3 linked regions of the Homo sapiens genome follow. The protein of the gene in region 1 purifies or fractionates together with the protein of each later gene. This does not show direct contact. Each region holds a gene or a part of one and is shown on either strand. Other genes may lie near its edges. The genes, in order: GPATCH8, ABCA2 and FDX1.

The links.
Region 2: the proteins of GPATCH8 (region 1) and ABCA2 purify together in Homo sapiens (affinity purification with mass spectrometry; one large-scale study listed by BioGRID and IntAct). This does not show direct contact.
Region 3: the proteins of GPATCH8 (region 1) and FDX1 purify together in Homo sapiens (affinity purification with mass spectrometry; one large-scale study listed by BioGRID and IntAct). This does not show direct contact.

The regions. Positions count from the first base shown.
Region 1 is NC_000017.11:44,423,341-44,426,988, forward strand, and holds part of GPATCH8 (G patch domain-containing protein 8), read right to left. Parts: intron 1,153-3,648; coding exon 1,009-1,152; intron 1-1,008.
Region 2 is NC_000009.12:137,021,682-137,025,329, forward strand, and holds part of ABCA2 (ATP-binding cassette sub-family A member 2), read right to left. Parts: intron 2,556-3,648; coding exon 2,462-2,555; intron 2,160-2,461; coding exon 2,157-2,159; intron 1,372-2,156; coding exon 1,260-1,371; intron 1,185-1,259; coding exon 1,021-1,184; intron 798-1,020; coding exon 670-797; intron 321-669; coding exon 210-320; intron 1-209. UniProt on the Homo sapiens protein: Probable lipid transporter that modulates cholesterol sequestration in the late endosome/lysosome by regulating the intracellular sphingolipid metabolism, in turn participates in cholesterol homeostasis.
Region 3 is NC_000011.10:110,428,308-110,432,055, reverse strand, and holds the start of FDX1 (adrenodoxin, mitochondrial precursor), read right to left. Parts: upstream 2,109-3,748; 5' UTR 1,936-2,108; coding exon 1,751-1,935; intron 1-1,750.

The sequences.
Region 1 (3,648 bases):
AAATGGGGGAGACTGTTCCAAAAAAGTGTAATACCACAACCAGCTTACAAATTCTTCCAGTTCTAGTAAGAATAAAACTTGGTCAAAGATTGCCTTTTACCTGTGCACTGAAATCTTATGGTTGGTGGAAGATGAAGGCTAAAAAAAAATCTTAGTTCAACAAGTCCAGCTTAGGAGACATCATTCCAATGCTCATAAATTTACAAGTTTAACAAATACAACTATTGTACCCCCCAAAAACCTAGTAAGTTATGTTAAAGTCACCCAAGATCAAATGGCTTGAAATTCTTTAACAAGCCAGAACTGTCCTATAGGTGTAACAATTTATTTTTCCCTTCTAAACTCTCCCAGGGGGATTATTGCCATCTTCTGTATATCAGTAACTAGTTAGGTACAATTTTCTCCTCTAAAATGATGGGGTGGCGGCGGGGGAGGGGGCAAAGACTGCAAAGTGTAATTCATTTATCAGCTCTTCAACATGCAGCAACAGAGTTTTTTGTTAAAGTTAAGATAGCATCTAATTTTATTTTCCTTCTCAAAATTTATCTAACTTCCAAGGTATATTGAATAGCAAAATGACTTAATAATAGAAAATGGTAGCCAATAAAGCATGAAATCTTATGTAGGGAACTTGAAAATAACAGTCTGCTGAATAACTCTTCAAAGTTTAACGCGTTAAGAGCAGAAATGGAAACAAAGCTCCCAGTGACCCTCAGCTGAATTACAAAATTAAATAAAAACTTAGAAATCAATAAAAGGCAAAAACATTATATAAGATTTACAAAACACAATTTGTCAAATAGTGTATATGTGGGAGTGTGGGCTGGAGGTGGTGTCTATGTCAGGATTTCTGCCACTGAAAAAACAAAGTGTGTTGGATGACTGCAGATAAAGATTGGCAGACACAAGAAATCATAGACACCAAGTTTTGGGGGGTATACTCATAAAATCCAATTGTTGTAACAATAGATAGGTACCTTCTTCTGTTAGCAAGTAACTACAACTCACCTGCTTGTGTGCATGATCATAGGAGTTGATATGGTTATCAAATTCCTGATGTTTCTGATATTGCTTATCACACAGTTCACAATAAAAGTTGGCTCTGAGGTCTTCCAAGGCTTTGGCAATTGCCTTCTCTTTGTCAACATAATCCTTCAAGACCCATGAAATACAAAGAAACAAAAAATGAACTTGGTAAAACTTTAAGTGAATGTTATAGAGAAAACAGTCTATCTGAGAAGACAAAAAAGGGCTTTTCATAATATTTAGTGGTACCAGTAAAAGCTGGATGAAACACAAGTGGTACTTTGGTGGGTAATCTGTGTGTCGTCATACTAACAATTGTCTTCAAATAAACAAATGTTTAAAAGGACTAAGGATGCTCAACTGATAAGTATAATGCAAATATTCCAAAACCCCCAAAAAATCTGAAATCTGAAACACCTTTGGTCTCAAGCATTTTGGATAAGGGATATACAACCTGTATTAATAGTCTAGTTTTCAGACACGAAGGAAAAAAGCATTACCTGAGTCTGTAGCCAATGATGGAGTTAAATATTCTATGGTCATTCTACATATAAGCTGCACTGCTTGGAAAGCCAACCCACAGATATGTGTTATCTGCTGGTCTCAGCGAGATTGAAAACTGTGGGACTCTTACATGTGAGAGGAGGTTGGAGAAAAACAACAACAACAAAAAACTGTGGGACTGACTCAAAGGCAGTCCAATTTGCCTCAGCAGTTTCACTTAAAAACTAGACATCAAAAGACATCTCAAAAAGGAAAAAAGAGAAAACAATTAAAAGATACCTCAAAGCAAGTTGAGTATATTCATTTGCTAATGTCGCACAGAAGGATGAGAAAGGGACAGGAATGCTAAGTGACTACTTGCTTGACTTTTAGAGCAGGGTAGATGCATTACTTTCATAATGAGCAACTCCTTCTAGCAGACTGACCTAAAAAAGATAAGTCTTATCTCAAAGACTATATCTACAGTTTCAAAGCAGCTCTATCATCTCCCATAAGAGCTACTTAATCAGTAAACAAGAAAAGGTTATTATTTTCTGGAGTGGCAGTACTGAACTAATTTGGACAGACTTATTAAAACTGAAAAGTGAGTATGTGTAGCACATTGTTATTTTTGCCCTATCTAATCCTTCACAATAATTTTCTTTGACAGTCCCGGACAGTTTCATGTTGTTTGGCTATTAAACGACTTGTGGCTTTTTTGCCCAGGCTGGAGTACAGTGCAGTTCATGGCTCACTGCAGTCTTCACCTCCTGGGCTCAAGCAATCTTCCCACCTCGGCCTCCCAAGTATCTTGGACTATAGGCGTGTACCAGCAAACCTAGCTAACTTTTGTATTTTTTGTAGAGATGAGGTCTCACTATGCTGCCAAAGCTGGTCATGAACTCCTGGGCTCAAGTGATCCTCCCACCTTGGACTCCCAAAGTGATGACATTGCAGGTGTCAGCCCCCACACCTGGCTGCAAATTTAAGCAACAAAACTAGAGTTCCTGGTATGAATACAGCAGTATAGGAAAACAGCTTTGATTTTCTTCTTGGGTATCATAAAAACAAAATTATGAATTAAAAAAACCCCACCAACTGCATTTTCAGAAGAACTGGGCAACAGATATGATCTGGAGTATGAAAAACACACAGAAGGAAAGTTAAGCTCTTTATAGAACCTGAATGAGGGAAATGTAGTAGAAGCCAGACAAGGCAAAGCTAAGCAATATCAAAAAAGCCAAAGGTGGCAATTTCAGAAAATGGCAAAACATATATCCTGTACATAAAAGGATCCTCTGAAATGAATATACCTACATCTCTTGCACTCATCAAGAATTTCTGAGATCTGGGAAGAACAAAGGGATGAACTTGGGTTAGGGTGGATGAGGAAACATTTGCAGTACAAAGAATGCACATAGAGAAAAGCAAAAAGTTCTGCCCAATTGCGGCAGATCTAAGAAAAGGCTGAGGCCAGGTGCGGTGGCTCACGCCTGTAATCCCAGCACTTTGGGAGGCCGAGGCAGGCAGATGGCTTGAGCTCAGGAGTTCAAGACCAGCCTGGGTAACACAGTGAAACTCCGGCTCTACCAAAAATACAAAACATTAGCTGAGCATGGTGTCACTTGCCTTTGGTCCCAGCTACTTGAAAGGCTGAGGTGGGAGGACCACTTGAGCCTGGGACGCAGAGGCTGCAGTAAGCCAAGATTGCGCCACTGCACTCCAGCCTGGGTGACAGAGTGAGACCTTGTCTCAAAAAAAAAAAAAAAAAAAAAGGCTATCAGCACATGCTCACTAAAGGAAGATCCACTCAACTACACAGGACAAGAAAGGGCACATAGTGTGACAATGAAAATGGTCCCAGAACAATCAGTGACAATCAATAGTGTAGTAAAGTTATTGAATCTTAAAGACAGACTCCTTTCAGCAGCTAGGCAAAAACAATCAAGAAGGGGAAGATCAGGCCAGCCTTTGATCTCTTCAACAACACACACACACACTCTCTCTCTCTCTCTCTCTCTCTCTCTCTCTCACACTCTCTCTCAACTCCAGAAGACAGTGGTACAATAAATACTATAAGATATCTAAGGAAAGAATTAACTTAGGATTTTATATGTATCTTTCAAATATAGGGAATAC
Region 2 (3,648 bases), on another chromosome or scaffold:
ACCCTGCCCCACCCACTGGCTGGCTCTGGGGCTGCCTGGGTCCCACGACATGCCTCTACCCCTCATGCCTGCCATAGACCCCTGGGACCCTCCCCCTCTCCCAGGAGGAGCTCCAAGTCACCAAAGGGGCCCTTTCCTCACCCACGGAGCAGAAGCACCCCCAGAGGCAGGCAGCACTCCAGGCCCATCCCACACATGGATGCCCTCACCTCCATCCGGAACAGGGGATTGCCCCCTAGGCGGCTCCAGGGCTCCTGACCCTTGTGGAGGCCAGACTGTGAATCCAGGGCAGATGAGGGACCAAAGAGCAGGTGGTAGACCTAGGAGGTGTGGGGGAATGGCTCAGATGGGGTGTGGGGGGCGTGGCTCAGATGGTGGGGGCGTGGCTCCGATGGACGTGTGGGGGCGTGGCTTAGATGGTGGGGGCGTGGCTCAGAGAGTGGGGGCGTGGCTCAGATGGTGGGGGCGTGGCTCCGATGTAGGTGTGGGGGCGTGGCTCAGATGGTGGGGGCATGGCTCAGAGAGTGGGGGCGTGGCTCAGATGGTGGGGGCAAGGTTCAGACGGTCTGGGCGTGACTCAGGCTGAGCATCCTGAGGATGGCTCAGCAACCAGGGGGCGTGGCTGGGGCAGAAGGGAGTGGCCAGGGCTGGGAGCTGTCCCTGCCTTACCTCGGGCGGGTCCACACGGGCGGCCAAGAGTGCTTGGGCCGTGCTATTGGGCAGCGACAAGTTTTGCGTCAGGAAACGCCAGAGCTCCTGCGGGTTTCTGGCCACCGAGTCCAGAGAGAAGGAAGACACTGGACAGGCAGGAAGGCGAGGCTGAGAGGCCGCTGCACCTTGGCAAGGTGCCCCCACATGCGCTCGGAGCCGAGCCCAACACCACAGCTCTGCCACTGCAGCCTGTGCGTGGCTGGGAACTCAGTGCAGGTGGAGGGGCCCAGAGTGGATGTGGGCTTCAGCCCAGTGACAGCAGAGCTTTGCCCGCAGCCCTGCCCCCCAACTTCCCTGCACAGGGCACACCTGTGGATCTGTCCAGGTGGCTCCCCGAGGTGCCCGGGCCCGCACTGAGGGCCTCCAGATGCTGGCGTAGGGCCTCGAGCTCTGAGCCCAGGCTGGGCCGCGCTGGGTCAAACAGGTTGCCTTCCTCCACCACGCGGTCCAGGCGCTCAAGCAGCTGCGTGACCCTGCACCATGGCGGATGTCACTCACTGGATGGGCTGGGGAGGGGTGGGTGCTCCGAGGGGCGGGTGGGCACTCACGTGGAGTTGGCGTACTGCAGGAAGCCGAACTCGTCTCGCTGGCCGTCCGGGCACAGCGATTGCATGACAGGCAGGATGCCGGCAGACGTCAGGGGCGCCGCTGTGTAGAAGGCTGGCAGACCCACGGGAGAGGGCAGGGTCGGGGGTGAAAGGGGAGAGAGAGAGAGAGGAATCCAGAAGGGGAGGGAGACAGAGGCCGAGAGGAGAAATTTAGAGAAAGTCAGGAAGGAGAAGCAGCGTTAGGGAGAAGGCGGCACAGAGCCCTGGCCCCAGCTGGGCTACAGGCCAAGCGTTCTGGGGCGAATGACTCCAGCAGGTCAGAGGTCAAAGAGCCACTCACCACCCCTTCTGCCATAACTCCCAGAGCATTCCTTTCCTTTCAGCCAGTGCAGGCCCACATGCCCTGGCACTCTCCCCCCGAAAACGTTTCAGGTGTGGCACTGCCTACAGAGCCCAGGGGAGGACAAAGGACCCCCTCTGGGCAGTGACCTCTGACCTCTGGCCAGCTGGTTAGCAGAGTGAGTGCAAGAGCCTGAAGGAGTATGAAGGGAGAGTAGCCAGGCCGCTCCAGCCCCAGCCCAGGCCAGCCCAGCCTCAGCCCAGACTCAGCCCAGAAGCCGAGGCACCCCAGCCCTAGAAGGCAAGGCCAGGCAGAGAGATGCCGCCTCAGCTTGACCCAGGCACCAGCTGTGCCTTTAGGTGGCCGGGCCTTTCACTCCCTACCACCTCCCACTTCACTGCCTGCCACCCCCCATCTGGAGCCAGCTGTTCCTGAGGCCGGCAGGGGGCCCGGGAGGGCTGTTAATGCAAGCGGGGAGGGCGCTCAAGCCAGGACGGCCCATGGGCCCCCCGCAGCTGCTGCCCAGGCCAGCCAGGAGGAGGTGGCCGCTCACTTACAGACTGCATGCCAGCCGAGGACAAGAGACCATGCGGGGAGGGAGGGGGATCAAAACAGAACAGAGGAGACCAGTGAGTGCCCACATCACCAGGAAGAGGCGTTGGCATCATCATTCGCGGCCACAGGCCAGCCCCGACCTCCACAGCCCAGCCAGGAGGCACGGCCCAGGACCACACAGGGGAGCAGGCACCGCACCTCAGGGACTCCGGGAGCAGGACACCCGTGTGCAGATGTGCACACACAGCGCAGGCGTGCGAGGTGCCGCGCTCCCCCGGCTGTGCCTGGGGCCTCCTGCCGCACTCACCTTCCTTCACGGAGATGGTGGGCTTCTTCTGTCGCAGCCCCAGCAGGATAAAGAACAGCACCAGGGGGATGAAGATCTCGAAGGCCAGGACCCACTGGAAAGGGTGGGCCCAGTGAGGGATAGGACAGACCTGTGCTCGCCTAGGCCCTCCCCAGCCTCCCATAGGGCTGGCCCAGCCCAGACAGGACCACGTGCTCCCTGGGGCCAGGGAAGGTGGGCACAGGCCCTTCGGAACCACTGAAGGTCTGAGCCCCTTCCAGGGCACTGAGGGTAAGGATTGTCTGGCTCAGCAAATCAGGTTTCCCGTCCCCAGCCCACACTGGGCCTACGTGCCCTCTGAGGAGCCTCAGGGCCTACAGGGACAAATCGGCCAGCTTGTGGTCTACTCTGACCCATGTATATCCCAGCTCATCTTCTCCCTCCCCACCTCCAGGGCTACCTGGGCAAAATCTTGGGGACCATCTGAGCCACTAGCCCCGCCTACACTTCCCACACTGCCCCGGGTTCACCTTCCTCCCACTTCCTCCCCACCAATACCGGGGCCTGGGGAGATGAGGAGGCCTGGTTGAGAGGCTTGGCCTGCGCCCAGGGCCCTGAGCCTCGGAGAAGACCTGGTAAGGGGTCTAACAGCCCCAGTCCCTGAAGCAAAGGCACCTTTTTTTTTTTTTTTTTTTGAGACGGAGTCTCACTCTGTCACCCAGGCTGGAGCACAGTGGTGCGATCTCAGCTCACTGCAAGCTCCGTCCCCCAAGTTCACACCATTCTCTTGCCTCAGCCTCTCGAGTAGCTGGGACTACAGGCGCCCGCCACCATGCCCAGCTAATTTTTTGTATTTTTAGTAGAGACGGGGTTTCACCGTGTTAGCCAGGATGGTGTCGATCTCCTGACCTCGTGATCCGCCCACCTGGGCGTGAGCCACCACACCTGGCCCAAAGGCACCTCTTTCTGCCCTGTCCCCTCTCCTGACCCGGGGCAGCCAGTCTTGGGCCTTGGAGCTCAGTTTCCCCAGGTCGGCTCCTGCTAACCCAGGCTGGGCACCAAGGTGAGCCCTAGTGGGACCTGCGTGGAGTGAGAAAGAGGTGCTTTGCTCACTTCACCTGAAAACCAAGGACTTTACCGGTTCTTGTGTCCCAGCCCCCAGCTCAGGGAGGAGGAGGAGCTTGAGCCAGCTACCCTCCAGAGAGCCC
Region 3 (3,748 bases), on another chromosome or scaffold:
GTAGCCACTAGCCACATGTGGCTACTGAGAACTCGAAATGTGGCTAGTGTAACTACGAGATTGAATCTTTAATTTTATTTACCTTTAATTATGTTAAACTTCAATAGCCACATGTGATTAGTAGTTACGGTAGTTACAGCACAAGTCTCATTAACACAGTAAGAACTGGAAAATCCAGTTGTAGCTCCAAAGTCTGTAAGAGGAATGATAAGACCATGAATAGAAATTGTGCCAATAAAGAGGGCAGCAGGATTATGAGGAAATAGACGTGCTCCCCTTTAAAACAACCTGACATATCCAAATCCAAAAAACAAATCTGAGAAAGATAACTCCCAATTACTACAAAAACATTCATGTTCCCTTATACCAGTTACACAAGCATGTTCAATATCTGTCCCAATTGATTCAGTTGTCCAAAACTCATCCATTGTATAACAGAAAGCAAGGTACCCACACTGGTCAAAGACAGGGGGGGAAGTGCAGAGGAAACAGGAACAAATAAATCTGGCTTGCCTTCTCCCTGATTTCCCCCAAAGTTCACACAACAAAAATGTATGGAGCACCCACTAGATAACGGGATTAGTGGGGAAAAGATGACTGAAAGTCTTAGACCCTGCTCTCAGAGACCTCAAAAAGAAACTAGACAAAGCAGCGTACAAATCCAACACACTCTCCCTCTAGTTCTCGATTCCTGCTACCCTACATCATGCGGTCAAAGAGCTGTCGAGAGATCTGCATTATATAAATCGCCACCATGTTGGTAAAAATTATGTGTAAATTGTATCTCTAGTATATCTAAGGAGTGTCTTTGAAAAACAAATATGCCCAAGAACCTAAAACTTCAACACATTTGGGATAAATTGTCACATTTCTTTCAATATTTAATACAAAACTCTCTTAACATTGTGAACCTAAGAAGCTGCTGCTGCTGCTGCTGCTGCTGCTGCTGCTGCTACCAAGTGGCATCTACTGAGCCCTCATTACGTGCTAGGCACAAGACTACCTGTATCGCTGTATTAACTCATTGATTCTTCAATTAACCATAGGAGGTCTACACTGTTATTATATCCAACTTGCAAATGGAGAAACTGGGTTCCTAAGGACTGACCAAGTTAGGCACGTCAGACAATCAGTGCCAAAGCCAAGTTTCAAGTCCCGGCAGATTACTTCAACGCAGGGGCTTTCAACACTTGAGCAACTAGCAAAGGGCCTACAGGGCAGCAGAGGGTATGGGCTGGGTGTATTCTACCTGGACACCCCCTGACAAAGACCTGGGACCTGGGTGTCCTCTCAAAGCAGGGCAAGGCCCTGAAAAAAACAGCTGGCAGGTGTGTCAGGCCAGGACAGCAGGAGGGAAGCCTGTCGCGAAGGTCACTGCCAGTTTCGGGCAGAGCAAAGGTCAGATCCCAGACAAATCACACGGAGAACAAGCAGCAGCAAAGTCCCGGCTTTCCTCAGGGCACGGGAAGCGCTGGGAAAGGGAGCTGGGCGTCCAGGGTCCCCGATTCCCGCCGGGAGTGGGTGATGCGGAAAGGAACTCTGCGGTGCGACGGAAGGGAGGCAGCGACGCCACCGAGCAGCGAGACGGAGCCGCGAGAGCACCCCAGAAGAGGGGGGCGAGAGGCAGGCCTCCGGGGTGTGGGCCCGGCGCGCAGAAGGCACTGGAACCAGAGACTCGGCCCAGAGAGCCAGGCGCCACCCACCGGGGACCCCGGCCCGCGCCGGCGATCGCGCCCGCACGGCGCCCTACCTGCTCCGGGCCCGCGCCGACACGCTCAGCGACCGGCTCGCCTCCGCGCTCCCGCCCGGCCCCCGGTTCCTCAGCAGGCCGCTGGATCCAGCGCGGGACCCAGCGTGGTGCAGCCACCGGCCGGCCGGGCCGCCGAGGACAGCAGAAGCGGCGCGCAGCAGCCGGGCGCCCCCAGCGGCAGCCATCGCCCGCGGTCGGGAACTGCCGGAAGCGACGCAGGCCGCGCTTTGAGGCCGCGAGAGACTCCAAAGAGGCGGGGGCGGCAGCTGCGGCGCAGACGCCCGAGGGCCGCGGCGAGGGGCGCGGGGCTGGAGTGGCGGAGAGACCCTGCTGGAAGCACCGCGCCGAGGTTCCGCGTGCCTTCCGGGTGACCTATAAAGACATTGGCAAGCAGAGCGCGGCCCCGCCCCGCCTCTCACGCCCACGCCGCCCGGTCCCATGGGGCGGGGCCAGCGCAGGGGGCCTTTACCAACCCTCCAGGTTCCGTTGTAAGCTGGATGCTTTTTTAGCGGCTGAAGTTGCCGTGCAGAAACAAAATATTTTGAAAGATAGCTGGACGTCTAGCGGAAATCGGTTAGCTAGACCACTGTGTTCTGTTCCGCATACCCCCATCCCCTAGCCGTTAAAAAAAAAACTGGGAAATTGTGTCATCTTGGAGTCAAGTTAGAGCAAAGTGAATTCTGCCCACTGTAAAACAAAAACAGTGGGAAATTTTGGAAAATCTCAGAATGCTATTATACAAAGAAATAATTATGACTATAAAATTGTAAATGAAATTAATGAATAGGCTTGGGGCTCCTGCAGAGGACAGGTAGCCATCCTAGACCTTGACTGGCAAGTAAATGCTGGCTGAGTACATGAAACCCACGAGACTGAACCGGAAACTTTGTGATGAGCTGAGATCTCTAAAAGACTTTCACAAAAAACAGAAAAGATGAACTTTAAAATACACCTTATCATGGTTCATATGTTGTGGGAAATGCATGGGCTTTAAGGTCAGAAATAGCAATGTTCAGATCCAAGATCTACTGCTTTAGAGATCTGAGACCTTGGAAAAATTATTCTCATGGAGGATCAGAGTTTCCATAACTCTCAAACACAGATAAGATGTTCCAGCCTTCAGGGCCATTCTGATGTTAATCTAATACGCAATGCACACCGTGCGTCACAAACCAGGAAGGCTACCGCTTCCTGGGCCTTCCTCCATCAGGGTACTCATAAAGAGGCTAAAGGCCAAAGTCAAGGGGATATTGCAGATATGCTAAACACAATCAGATACTTTTTTTTTCTTTTTTTGACATGGGGTCTCTCTATTCTGCCCAGGCTGTAGTGCAGTGGCGAAATCTCGGCTCACTGCAACCTCCGCCTCCCAGGTTCAAGTGATTCTCCTGCCTCAGCCTCCCGAGTAGCTAGGACTACAGGCGTGTGCCACCACACGCCACTAATTTTTGAAGATTCAGAACAAGAAAGTGTAAGCATGAGTAAAGTATCTGCGGACAATGTATGGTGCTTTCTGGAACCCAATGGCAGAGAGAAGGCAGTGGCTCCTAATTGCCTCAAATCGTTGGATGAAGAGAAAGTCTTTCAAGCTGCGAAGGGCACAGCAAACCCTGACAAGTAATCTTGAAGAGGAGGTTGTAAAAGAACAGCTAACTTTTGTTTTTAGTAAGACCAAACTTCCAAGGTCGGATGAATTAGTTGTAGGAAGAGAATTGAAAAGAAAAAAAATCGTAGATGTTCTGTCTTCTCTCAGCCCTCCTGTAGCAAATACAGTTTCAACTCCCTTAAGGCACTTGATAGCTTTCTGCTTTGTAGGGTAGTTATTCGTACACATAGAGTAGTTATTTATATAGTTCATCTTAGTGACTCCGACAGCACCAGCTACAGGGTCTTGAACATATCAAGGGTCTAATAAATATTGGTGAATAAATTGATGTTATGAAATTTCCATTAATAATCATCAGAATTCATTAAGCATGTATATGAAGATTAAAGATA